Linked DNA regions of Homo sapiens: region 1 is linked to region 2. The links come from fine-mapping of genetic effects on gene expression. A gene starts in region 2. The other region holds a variant in brackets. All regions are shown on one strand. Distances are from middle to middle.

The links. PIP is the estimated chance that this variant, and not a neighbour inherited with it, causes the effect. A credible set is the group of variants that fine-mapping cannot tell apart.
Region 1: its variant is the best candidate, but not a certain one, in a credible set for the expression of IDH2 in left ventricle (GTEx, PIP 0.53).

The regions. Positions count from the first base shown.
Region 1 is chr15:90,123,811-90,129,179 of GRCh38, forward strand. The region is part of intron 2 of IDH2-DT (IDH2 divergent transcript); the gene reads left to right. Among named protein-coding and RNA genes, the nearest start is that of IDH2, 24 kb to the left of the region's middle. The variant C/T (reference allele first, on the strand shown) is at 3,015.
Region 2 is chr15:90,100,195-90,105,563 of GRCh38, forward strand. It overlaps IDH2 (isocitrate dehydrogenase (NADP(+)) 2), which reads right to left and starts at 2,274. Exons shown (of 11, transcript NM_002168.4): 1 at 2,082-2,274. The coding sequence starts at 2,196. IDH2-DT (IDH2 divergent transcript) reads left to right here and starts at 1,938. Exons shown (of 3, transcript NR_149130.1): 1 at 1,938-2,184; 2 at 3,186-3,258. RefSeq lists enhancers at 700-1,555, 1,556-2,410 and silencers at 945-994, 1,055-1,144, 1,635-1,704, 2,025-2,484.

The DNA.
Region 1 (5,369 bases), 24 kb after region 2:
AAAGTGATGTTATGATTTATGAATACAATGTAGAAAAATTAAATCAAGCTAATTAACATATCTGTTACCTCAAATTCTTATAATTTTTGTAGTGAGAACATTTGAGATTTACACTTAGTGACTTTGAAATGTACAGCACATTATTATTTACTATATTCACCATGCTGTGCAATATATCTCAAAGAAAAAAACTTATTCCTCCTGTCTAATTGAGGATTTGTACCCTTTGACTATCATTTCTCCCAAGGTTTTGTTTTGTTTTGTTTTGTTTTTTTACTAGCAGCCTAATAGTCCATTATATTCCTCTCACTGGAGCAGGGGCTCTGGAATCAGTCAGGTTAATATTCTGTCCTCACCTCTTAGGAACTATGTAACTTTTACCTTTTTTTTTGAGACGGAGTTTCACTCTTGTTGCCCAGGCTGGAGTGCAATGGCGCGATCTCGGCTCACCACAACCTCCGCCTCCCAGGTTCAAGCGATTTCCTGCCTCAGCCTCCTGAGTAGCTGGGATTACAGGCATGCACCACCACGCTTGGCTAATTTTGCATTTTTAGGAGAGACAAGGTATCTCCGTGTTGGTCAGGCTGTTCTCTAACTCTTGACCTCAGGTGATCTGCCCGCCTCAGCCTCCCAAAGTGCTGGGATTACAGGCATGAGCCACCGCACGTGGCTGAACTATGTAACTTTTGACAATAATTTTACTCTCTAGGCTTTAGCTCTTATGGGAGATGGCCAGGTCTTGAACTGAGTTAGTTTCATAGTTGGATCTCAACCCCTAATTGATTGAGTTAGAAGCCCTACATCAACTGAAATAGTGGATCATTAACTCTAGAACAGTCTTATTTACTCATAAAAGTCTCCTAAAGACCTAGGATAGGTCACATTTTGAGAGTCCACAGTTTTATCTACTGTGACTAAGAACAATAAAACTACATGAAACAATGCCCTGTGGTGTTTAAAAGCTGTAGTCAGGGTTGGCAGCATGAAGGAGTGGCAATTGAACCACTTAATTAAATTCCCTTATCAGATGATCAGATTATTGTTTATCAGTAGAGCTAGTGATTAAGTGAGGCCTCCAACCTTGTCCTAGCTGGTTGCCTTGGGAGAGTTTCCAGACTTCTCCGTGGCTCACTTTATCATCATCTGTAAAATGGGTAGAGTAACAGCTTAGTACCAACCTCATAGTAATGTGCTGGTTAAAATATACTCAGCTGGCTGGGTGCGGTGGTTCATGCCTGTAATCCCAGCACTTTGGGAGGCCAAGACGGGTAGATCACCTGAAGTCAGTAGTTTAAGACCAGCATGGCCAACATGGTGAAACCCCGTCTCTACTAAAAATACAAAAATTAGCCAAGCGTAGTGATGCACACCTGTAATCCCAGCTATTCGGGAGGCTGAGGCAGAAGAATTGCTTGAACCCAGGAGGTGGAGGTTGCAGTGAGCTGAGATAGCACCATTGCACTCCAGCCTGGGCAACAAGAGCGAAACTCCGTCTCAAAAAATAATAGTAATAAATAAATAGTACTCAGCTGGCTGGGTGTGGTGGCTCATGCCTATAATCCCAGCACTTTGGGAGGCCAAGGAGGGTGGATCACTTGAGCTCGGCAGTTCAAGACCAGCCTGGCCAACATGGTGAAACCTTCTCTACTAAAAATACTAAAATTAGCCTGGCATGGTGCCATGTGCCTGTAATCCCAGCTACTGGGGAGGCTGAGGCAGGAAAATTGCTTGAACTTGGGAGGTGGAGGTTGCAGTGAGCTGAGACTGCACAACTGCACTGCAGTCCAGCCTGGGCGGCAGAATACAATTGTGTCTCAAAAAAAACAAAAAACAAAAAACAAAACTCAACTGAAGATGGACGCAACATGTGATAAGTGATGAATAATGGCCACCATCATTCTCATCTCTGGCTGGGGTAGGACTAGTGAGATCGGGACGTGTAAGGTAGCTCACTCAGATATTGGGTTAGGGAGACCCAAAAAACTGCAGTGGAACTCAGGCGCTGTTCATGTGGGGCAGATGGCTAATACTGAAACTCACAAGAAATGGCTAACAACAAACTTCCTAGAAATCAGTTTGTTTGGGCCAGGTGCAGTGGCTCACGCCTGTAATCCCAGCACTTTGCAAGGCCAGGGTTGGTGGATCACATGAGGTCAGGAGTTCAAGACCAGCCTGGCCAACATGGTGAAACCCCATCTCTATTAAAAAATACAAAAATTAGCCAGGGATGGTGGCACGTGCCTGTAATCCCAGCTACTTGGTAGGCTAAGGCAAGAGAATCACTTGAACCCAGGAGGCGGAGGTTGCACTGAGCCAAAAAGGCTCCACTGCCCTCCAGCCTGGGTGACAGAGCAAGATTCCGTCTCGGGGGAAAAAAAAAGAAAGAAATCAGTTTGTCCAATGAGGTGCTGGCAAATGTTTAACAACCAGCTCCAGTGCGGGGGGTGTGTGTGTGTGTATGTGTGTGTGTGTGTTTGCTAACTTGTAGCATTTGCTGATTTCGGTAGTGTAAATATTTCCACCATGGCCAATTTCAAACTACCAACACAGCATCACTGAACAGAGTTGTATATTTCCATCTATAATATTTCCACCATATAGATGCAACAGACATAAATGTCCTCAAATGCATAGATACTAGTAAAATATAGTAAAATAATTAGAAAGTGATGAGTTTGAGTCTTTTAATATAATCATAAGTTTATATAACTTAATTTTTAATAATGGCTATGTGTAACAACTGGCTTGCAAAATTCTTGAGAATTTAACAGTTGGCTCTCATGAGCCTGTACAAGCTGGCTCCAGACACCACTCCAGCCACCCCATGTCTCCTTTTGGATCTTGTGGAGTATAGCCCAGGACGTGGCAACTGCACAAGAGCTTAGGGCAGCTTCAATATCCTTCTTAGGGACTCCTTCCTCTGGCAATTGTGTCCCCCTCCTGGAGGACACAGCCCCAGAGGTGACCTTTTCCCTTCCAGGCTCCAAGCTGTTTAACATTCTCATCCACCAGCA[C/T]CTCCCCCCACTGCAGGGCGGCTATTTCAGGAATGCCGGGACGTGCACGTAGGGCATCCTGGCCAGCCACTTGCTGGCCAGCCACTTGCCGAATGCACCCTGTCAGGTGCTCACAAGGTCGTCCAGATGGCTAGAAAGAGAGCAGCAGCCTTAGGAAGGGGCTGCCTGCTCCTAGGCTCACAGCCCCTTGATACTTGCATTCTCTAATTAGGAATGCCTTGGCCAACAGACCCTAGAAGTCCACTGCCCTCGTGTATTTCAAAACCTGGATCCAAACTACCATTTCTTAGTTTCATCTCACTTCTGCCCATTGCTTCTCTACCCCTGCAAGTGACAACAGAGACAGTCATAAATAATGTTGGCAACTTCACGCACGGAGTGCTTGCTCTAGAATTATCCTATTTAATCCTCATAACAACCCTATGAAGTAGGTACTATTTTTATCCCAGTTCTGTAGATGAGAAGTCCAAGACTTGGGGTGGTATGTTAACTTGCCCACAGTCATATAGAAGGACTGTCTGGGGAACCCAAGTGTCTTAATCAGTGTTTTTTCTTTTACTTTTTTTTTTTTTTTTTTTGAGATGGAGTTTTGCTCCTGTTGCCCAGGCTGGAGTGCAATGGTGCAATCTTAGCTCACTGCAACCTCCACCTCCCAGATTCAAGTGATTCTCCTGCCTCAGCCTCTCAAGTAGCTGGAATTATAGGCACCCGCTACCATGCCCAACAAATTTTTGTATTTTTATTTTATTTTATTTTATTTTGAGACACAGTCTCGCTCTGTTGCCCAGGCTGGAGTGCAGTGGTGTGATCTTGGCTCCCTGCAAGCTCCTCCTCCCAGGTTCACGCCATTCTCCTGCCTCAGCCTCCCAAGTAGCTGGGACTACAGGTGCCCGCCACCACGCCTGGCTAATTTTTTGTATTTTTAGTAGAGACGGGATTTCACCGCGTTAGCCAGGATGGTCTTGATCTCCTGACCTCATGTTCCGCCCGCCTCGGCCTTTCAAAGTGCTGGGATTACAGGTCAGCCACCGCGCCCGGCCAAATTTTTGTATTTTTAGTAGAGACAGAGTTTCACCATGTTGGCCAGGCTGGTCTCAAACTCCTGACCTCAACCTCAGGTGATCTACCTACCTTGGCATCCCAAAGTGTTGGGATTACAGGCATGAGCCACCGTGCCTGGCCCTTTTTTTTTTTTTTTAGATGGAATTTTCGCTCTTTTGTTGCCCAGGCTGGAGTGCCGCGTCGCGATCTTGACTCACTGCAATCTCCACCTCCCAGGTTCAAGCGGTTCTCCTGCCTCAGCCTGCTAAGTGGCTGGGATTACAGGCACACACCACCACACCCAGCTATTTTTTTTTTTTTTGTATTTTTAGTAGAGATGGGGTTTCACCATGTTGGCCAGGCTGGTCTCAAACTCCTGACCTTGTGATCGGCCCACCTCAGACCCCCAAAGTACTGCGATTACAGGTGGGAGCCACTGCACCCGGCCTATCAGTGTTTTTTCTTTTTCCTTCAACTGTCTTTCTTTACACAGTATCCTTGTTCCACACGTGATTATTTTGCATCTTTGACATGTTGCTTATTACTAAACATTCTCAGCACAGAGGCAGTAGTAGAAGCCATGAGTCTGATAAGTTTGCTGAAGGAGAGAGTGTGCTATGAGGACGGATCGTTGACAAGACCCTGGAGGACACAAGGACCTAAGAGCCCCTAAGAGGAGACAGAGAAGGTGCTGTCCCACAAAGTGCAAGATGTCCCAGGAGAGAGGTGTCCAGGGGATGACTGTGCGGGGGAAGCTCCGAAGTGGACAAGTCAACGAGCACCGGAAGGTGTCCCAGGGATCTGGCAATCAAGAGGCCATCAGTGAGCCAGGCAGGGTCTGTTTCTTCATTTCTTTGCCAGTGGGTGAGGAGGCTGTAGCAGGGAAGGCAGGAGACCCCATAGGTGGGTGGAGGAAAGGCAGGGAGGTCACAAAGTAGGGCCAGCCAGTGTAGACTTCCCTTCCAAGAAGGAGAAAGACGGAGAGAGACACTAGGTGGAAGAAGGGCTTTTGGGATTTGGGTTTTAGTTTTAGCTTTTTGTTTTTGTTTTTGTTTTTTAAAAAACACAGTTTCGGCAGGGCGCGGTGGCTCACGCCTGTAATCCCAGCACTTTGGGACGCCAAGGCGGGGAGATCACAAGGTCAGGAGATCAAGACTACCCCGGCCAACATGGTGAAACCCCATCTCTACTAAAATAAAATAAAATAAATTAGCCAGGAGTGGTGGTGCATGCCTGTAGTCCCAGCTACTCGGGAAACTGAGGCAGGGGAATTGTTTGAACCTGGGAGGCAGAGGTTGCAGTGAGCCGAGATCC
Region 2 (5,369 bases):
ATTTTTAACATGGGTTTACAGAGTATAAACCCCAGGGAAGGCCACAGACCCTGGCTTCCAGTAATCTGAGAGCAGTTTCCAGCACCTCATACCCTGAATGGAACCAGCCCAAGGGCCCTCAACTTCACACAGAAGATGTGGGAGCAGGCCTCAGCCATTCCAAAGAGGCTTTTCCTCAGTACCTACTAGGCCTAAACACAACCACCCCAATCAGCTCTGGCAGGGCAGCTAGGGCCTTATCTGACGTGGCAGAAAGATCTGCACACTTAAGGGGCAAGAATTAAGAAGTTTCTGGGTTAGGAGTGAAGGAAGGCTAGATAAGTAATTCTGCCACTGAGCCGTTCACAGAACTGGTCCGCACTGCCCCAAGCTCTAACTTACCAGAAACATCACCAGCAGTCGCTGGAAGCCTATGGCGTTGCAAAATAGGAAAAGATGCGTGCAGGAATTACCAGGCAGCAAAGACACGGGGCTCTTTTAGCCCCAAAATATTCTTTCCTTGTCATCAAGGGGAATGCCAAGTATTCTGTCTCCAGCTGCGTTGCCAGGTAACAAGCTGGCAGAGTCGCAACTGTAGAGTCTGATGTCCAACTCCAACACCAAGCAATTTCCCCATTCATAACCAACCCACATGGGGACTTCTAGAAGGGCCTGCAACTGACTGCTTTTTCTGTATCCAAATTCAGGACCCTTAAAAGGCGCTTTGTGTTCCTGTTTGTGTGTGTTTTTCGGGTTGTTTGTTTCTTTTTTTTTTTTTTACCATCAAGGCAGAAAAAAAGGGAGAATTAAAGAATGTGGCTAACTTCCACCATATTTTTGCTGAAGGTGGTGTGCTATATGGGAATCTTTGGGTCCTGGGGCACTTGGAACCTGGGAGTTGTTGGGCAGATCCCTGAGGTAGATTCCCAGAGGTACAAAAGCAGACATGCCCCTTTCTCCTTGGCAGGGAAGGTAGGACTGGGGCCCAAGCCTCCCTACCCCCCCGGCTCTAGTCAGCTGCTCCCACAATCCGGTTAACCATTACCTCCTCTGGCCAGGTCAGGGCCAGCGGGCCCCATCCCCTCTTCCTCACTCTCCTGGCTCACTGCAAGGGGCTCCTGGCCAGATTAGGATAGGGGTTTCCATGGCAACAGGCATTAGGCAGGGCCAAGGGACCTACATTGTTCCCTGCCTTTTGTAGCTGTGTTGGGTAGCCAGGGTGAGGGGGCAGGCCGATGCCCACACGCCAAGCAAGGCAGCCTGCGTTGGCAACGGAGGCTCGGGCTAAGTCTTGCTTATTACGACCCGACTACTGTCTTCCCTCCTAAGCAGGGAACTAAGGGTACCCAGAAGCCGTGGGAACGATTCCGCAAAGTGACATTTTGCGCGGGCTGCCAGGTCTCTGCGGCGAGTGAGCCAGGCAGGGAGGGCATGTGCCTGCCAAGGCAGGTCAAGTCAAGGAGAGGCCCCAGGATGGAGCCTCAAGTGCAGCGATGAAGGCGAAGGGGTGGGGGTGGGGGCGGCCAAACAAAAGGGGAAAATTAAAAAGGACGCTCCTCCAGCTGTCGTGTAAAAGGCTCCAAAAATAGCTGACGTGGGCCTGGTATCAGCGCGCGCCTGGCTGAAAAGGAAGGGGAAGTGCATGTCTCCCGCCTCCCAGCCTTTGTCTGAGCAGGGGCCGAGCCACGACCCTCCCTCTCGCCAGGGGAGCGCGCGGGGTGCTCCAGCCCCCCACGGGTGCTCGTCTCGTTCCAGGGGCGCAGGGCGGGCAGGCCACCCTTCGGGTCCGGGACACTCTCAGGACCCCCTCCCGAAATACCTAGGGGCGCGCGGCAGCCCCGAGCCCCCGCCCGCGCAGAGCTGGCCGTCGCCCGGGCCACCAGTTGCCACCGTCCCTCAAGTCCCCACCCCAGCGCCTGGCACGGCCGGGAAGCGCCGGGCGGGGGAGCGCGGAGCGAAGCTGCCCCGCGGCCCTTTGTGCGCCTGACCCCGCCGTCCCCGGGCTGCGGGCTGGCGGGACGTGCTTCCCGGCCCCAGCCTGGGAAGCCGCCACGTCGCAGCTGGGGGCGCGCGCCTGCCTGGACCCTCCGCGCGGCACTCACAGTGGCGCCGCGGCTGCTCTTGCGAGGTGGGGGCTGTCAGGGCCGCCGGCGCCCAGGCCGGCCGCGAGCCTGAGGCTCTGCAGAGCGAGCGCACGACCCGCAGGTAGCCGGCCATCCCAAGCTGGAGAGCGAACGAGCAGGGCGGGAGAGGTCCGAGCGCGCGCCGCTCCTCCCGGCTGCCTGGCCGCGGGCTAACGCTGGGCCTGGCGGGCGCTGGCCGCGCGGGCACCACCGGGGCGGGGCTGCCGGGCCTGCCGCCCCATTGGGCCTTGCCGGGGAGGAGGCGGGGCCAGGGCCGCCGACGCCTCCAGCGTCCCGCGGGAGCCGGGACCCGGCGGCCAGGCCCGGCTGGTGCTTCTCTGGGCGCCGCTGAAAGCCCAGCTCCGCAGGAGCTACAGGCGTGAGACCCACCGGGACCCGCGAGCGGGATCAGGGCTGGGGGATTAGCAGAGCCGCTTGCGAGGCTGACCCTCTCCAGGATGCCCCATGTAAACCTGGATGTCAGTTTCTGACGCTTTAGCTTAAACCCAAAAGCCAATCTGAGCGAACTCTTGCTTCCCTCGCCTGCCGGGCTGAACCCAAAGGCGCATTAGCCCAGTGCGGCTGCTTCATTCTTGAGCTAAGACCGCCGGCGGCGTCTGCGCCTCCGCGAGTCCGCTGTCAGGTCCAGCTGGTGTAGAGAGAGTTGAAATCTCACTTTGGGCCGGGCGCGGTGGCTCACGTCTGTAATCCTAGAACTTTTGGGAGGTCGAGGCAGGCGGATCACTTGAAGTCAGGAGTTCGAGACCAGGCTGGCTAACATAATGAAACCCCTGTCTCTACTAAAAATACAAAAATTGATCGGGCATGGTGGCGCGCGCCTGTAATCCCAGCTACTCAGGAGGCTGAGGCGGGAGAATCACTTGAACCTGAGAGGCAGAGATTGCAGTGAGCTGAGATCATGCCACTGCACTCCAGCCTGGGCAACAGAGTGAGACTCCGTCTCAAAAAAAAAAAAAAAAAACCACGAAAAAAGAAATATGATTGGACCAGAAGGCCAATAACCTGAGTGGGGAAACCCAGCAAGTCCTGTCCGTGTAGATTCTTCTTGACCTTTCTCTGCAGCATTCCTTCCTTCTGAGTACGGGGCAGGACTCTCTCTGGGATGGAGGGGTCTTAGGACCTGCAAGCAAACAAGGTAGGTCAGATAATTTATGGCCAGTTTTTACCCAGAAATGTGTGGGAGAAAGAGTAATATTTTTGGGTTCGATGTCTGGCTTTGGGGGAGAAGGGCTCTGGTTTCTATGACCTGCCTTGAGGAAGAAGGATTCCAGTTTCTATGGCTGGCCTCGGAGGAGAGTGAGGGGCCAAAGACAGGAGGGAGGGAGAGGGTCAGAGAGAGCTGCTCCTGAGGCCTGCATTTTGGGGTGTTGTTTTCTGAGACCCTAGAGTAGTCAAACAGCCACAGTAGAAACAGTTCCATTTTTGCCTGTTTGCATATAAAAGATGGGTTTGTTTGTTTGTTTTAATTAAAAATAGAGATGGGGGGATCTCACTATGTTGCCCAGGCTGGTCTCCAGCTCCTAAGCTTAAATGATCCTCCCGCCTCGGCCTCGCAAAGCACTGGGATTACAGGTGTGAGCCACTGCACCTGGCCACAAAAGACAGTTGTAATTGATTCTGCCACAAACAAAGTTTCTCTCTTCATCTGTTTTCTTAAACTAAGACACCAGCTGAGGGCTGGGTTTTATTTGGAAAAACCTGACCTCTTTCCCTTCTCTGCTTTCCCAGTCACGCTAATTCACTCCAAATAGGAGCAACCTTTCTCTTCTGTGTTCTCAGCCCTCCCCTCCACTACCTCACAGTCAACATTGCCAGGTGGAGCTGGACCAGGAAGGTGACCTTCAACTAGTGACTTCAAAGCTCCCCTCACCAAGTCCTAGCCGGCAGAACTACTACTCTGGCCATGGGATCCAGAAGGCTGAGCCCAAGGGAGGGCTGCTTTTGGGCCCCCCAGAGTCTGAGGCCTCTGTCAAAGGCCTGGTCTTGGGCCAGCTTGTGCCAGAAAGACCCCTTATCCCTTTGACTCTGTTCAGAATTCTGTTGCTCCAAACACAAGTAGAGACCATGGAAGCCTCTGGCATTTGACTTTCCTGCCAACCTGGTATTATCAGGTGCCTGGATCTCAATGTCCACACCTGTAAACTGGAAGACTGGACCCCTGAAGATCCTTCTGGTCCAAACAATCAGACTTACGTATGTCAGCCACCCATACTGCCACCTCTGAAATGGCGGTAATGAAATTGCTGTCCCCCTCCCCCCACCAAGGACTTGCCCCTTTCTCTGCATGTTGGACTCATATCTCAGAGGCCTGGCCAGAGGCAGCACTGTAGGTGTGTTCCAGAGTCTGGTCTTTGCCTGCTGAGGGATCAGAGGGGGAGCACTTGTGTGCCTTGTAAGCACAGCAGCAGCTGGAGGCAATTGAGGCAAAATCTTTAAACGGATTCTAACTACCTGCCTCCCAGGGCCCCAGCTCCACGCCAGCCTTTCCCGTAAATCCTGTTTGGTGAGGCAGCTGATGCCAGCTCCATTTGGCTCGTAGAGGTTACCACACTTGCTCAATGTCACACTGCTGGGAAGCAGTAAAACTCCAGTTCAAATCAACATACCTGGCCCATATTCCATTACTGTTTTTTTGTTTTTTCCGAGACAGGGTCTCACTCTGTTGCCCAGGCTGGAGTGCAATGGTATGATCATGGCTCCCTGAAGCCTCGACCTCCCGGGCTCAAGTGATCCTCCCACCTTAGCCTCCTCAGTAGCTTGGACAACAAGAACATGCAACCATGCCCGGCTAATTTTTTTTCTGTTACTTTTTGAAGGAGAAAGAGGGAGAAACCACAGCCCCTATTTATTGTGCTGGTCTGGAATTCCTGGTGATGGTAACTATTGGCCCTGAAAGCTGCTGCAGAGAAAGATGGTGTTTAAAGGAAAGGGGCTCAGATCCTCCCATCTGGGGTCAGTGGAATTGAAAATTTCCACCCCTCCACATTTTCAATCAAACCCCAATTTGTCATTGAATTTAGGTCACGTGCAAGTTCCCTGTGGAGGCACAAAAATTTGTATCACTCCGTCCCCACCCTCTGGGAGCCAGACACACATGTATACAATCACCATAAACCCAGGCACAAGAGAAAAATGTCTGCTGGGCGTGGTGGCTCACACCTGTAATCCCAGCACTTTGGGAGGTCAAGGCAAACTCCTTGAGCTCAGGAGTTTGAGACCAGCTTGGTCAGCAGAGTGAGACCTTAA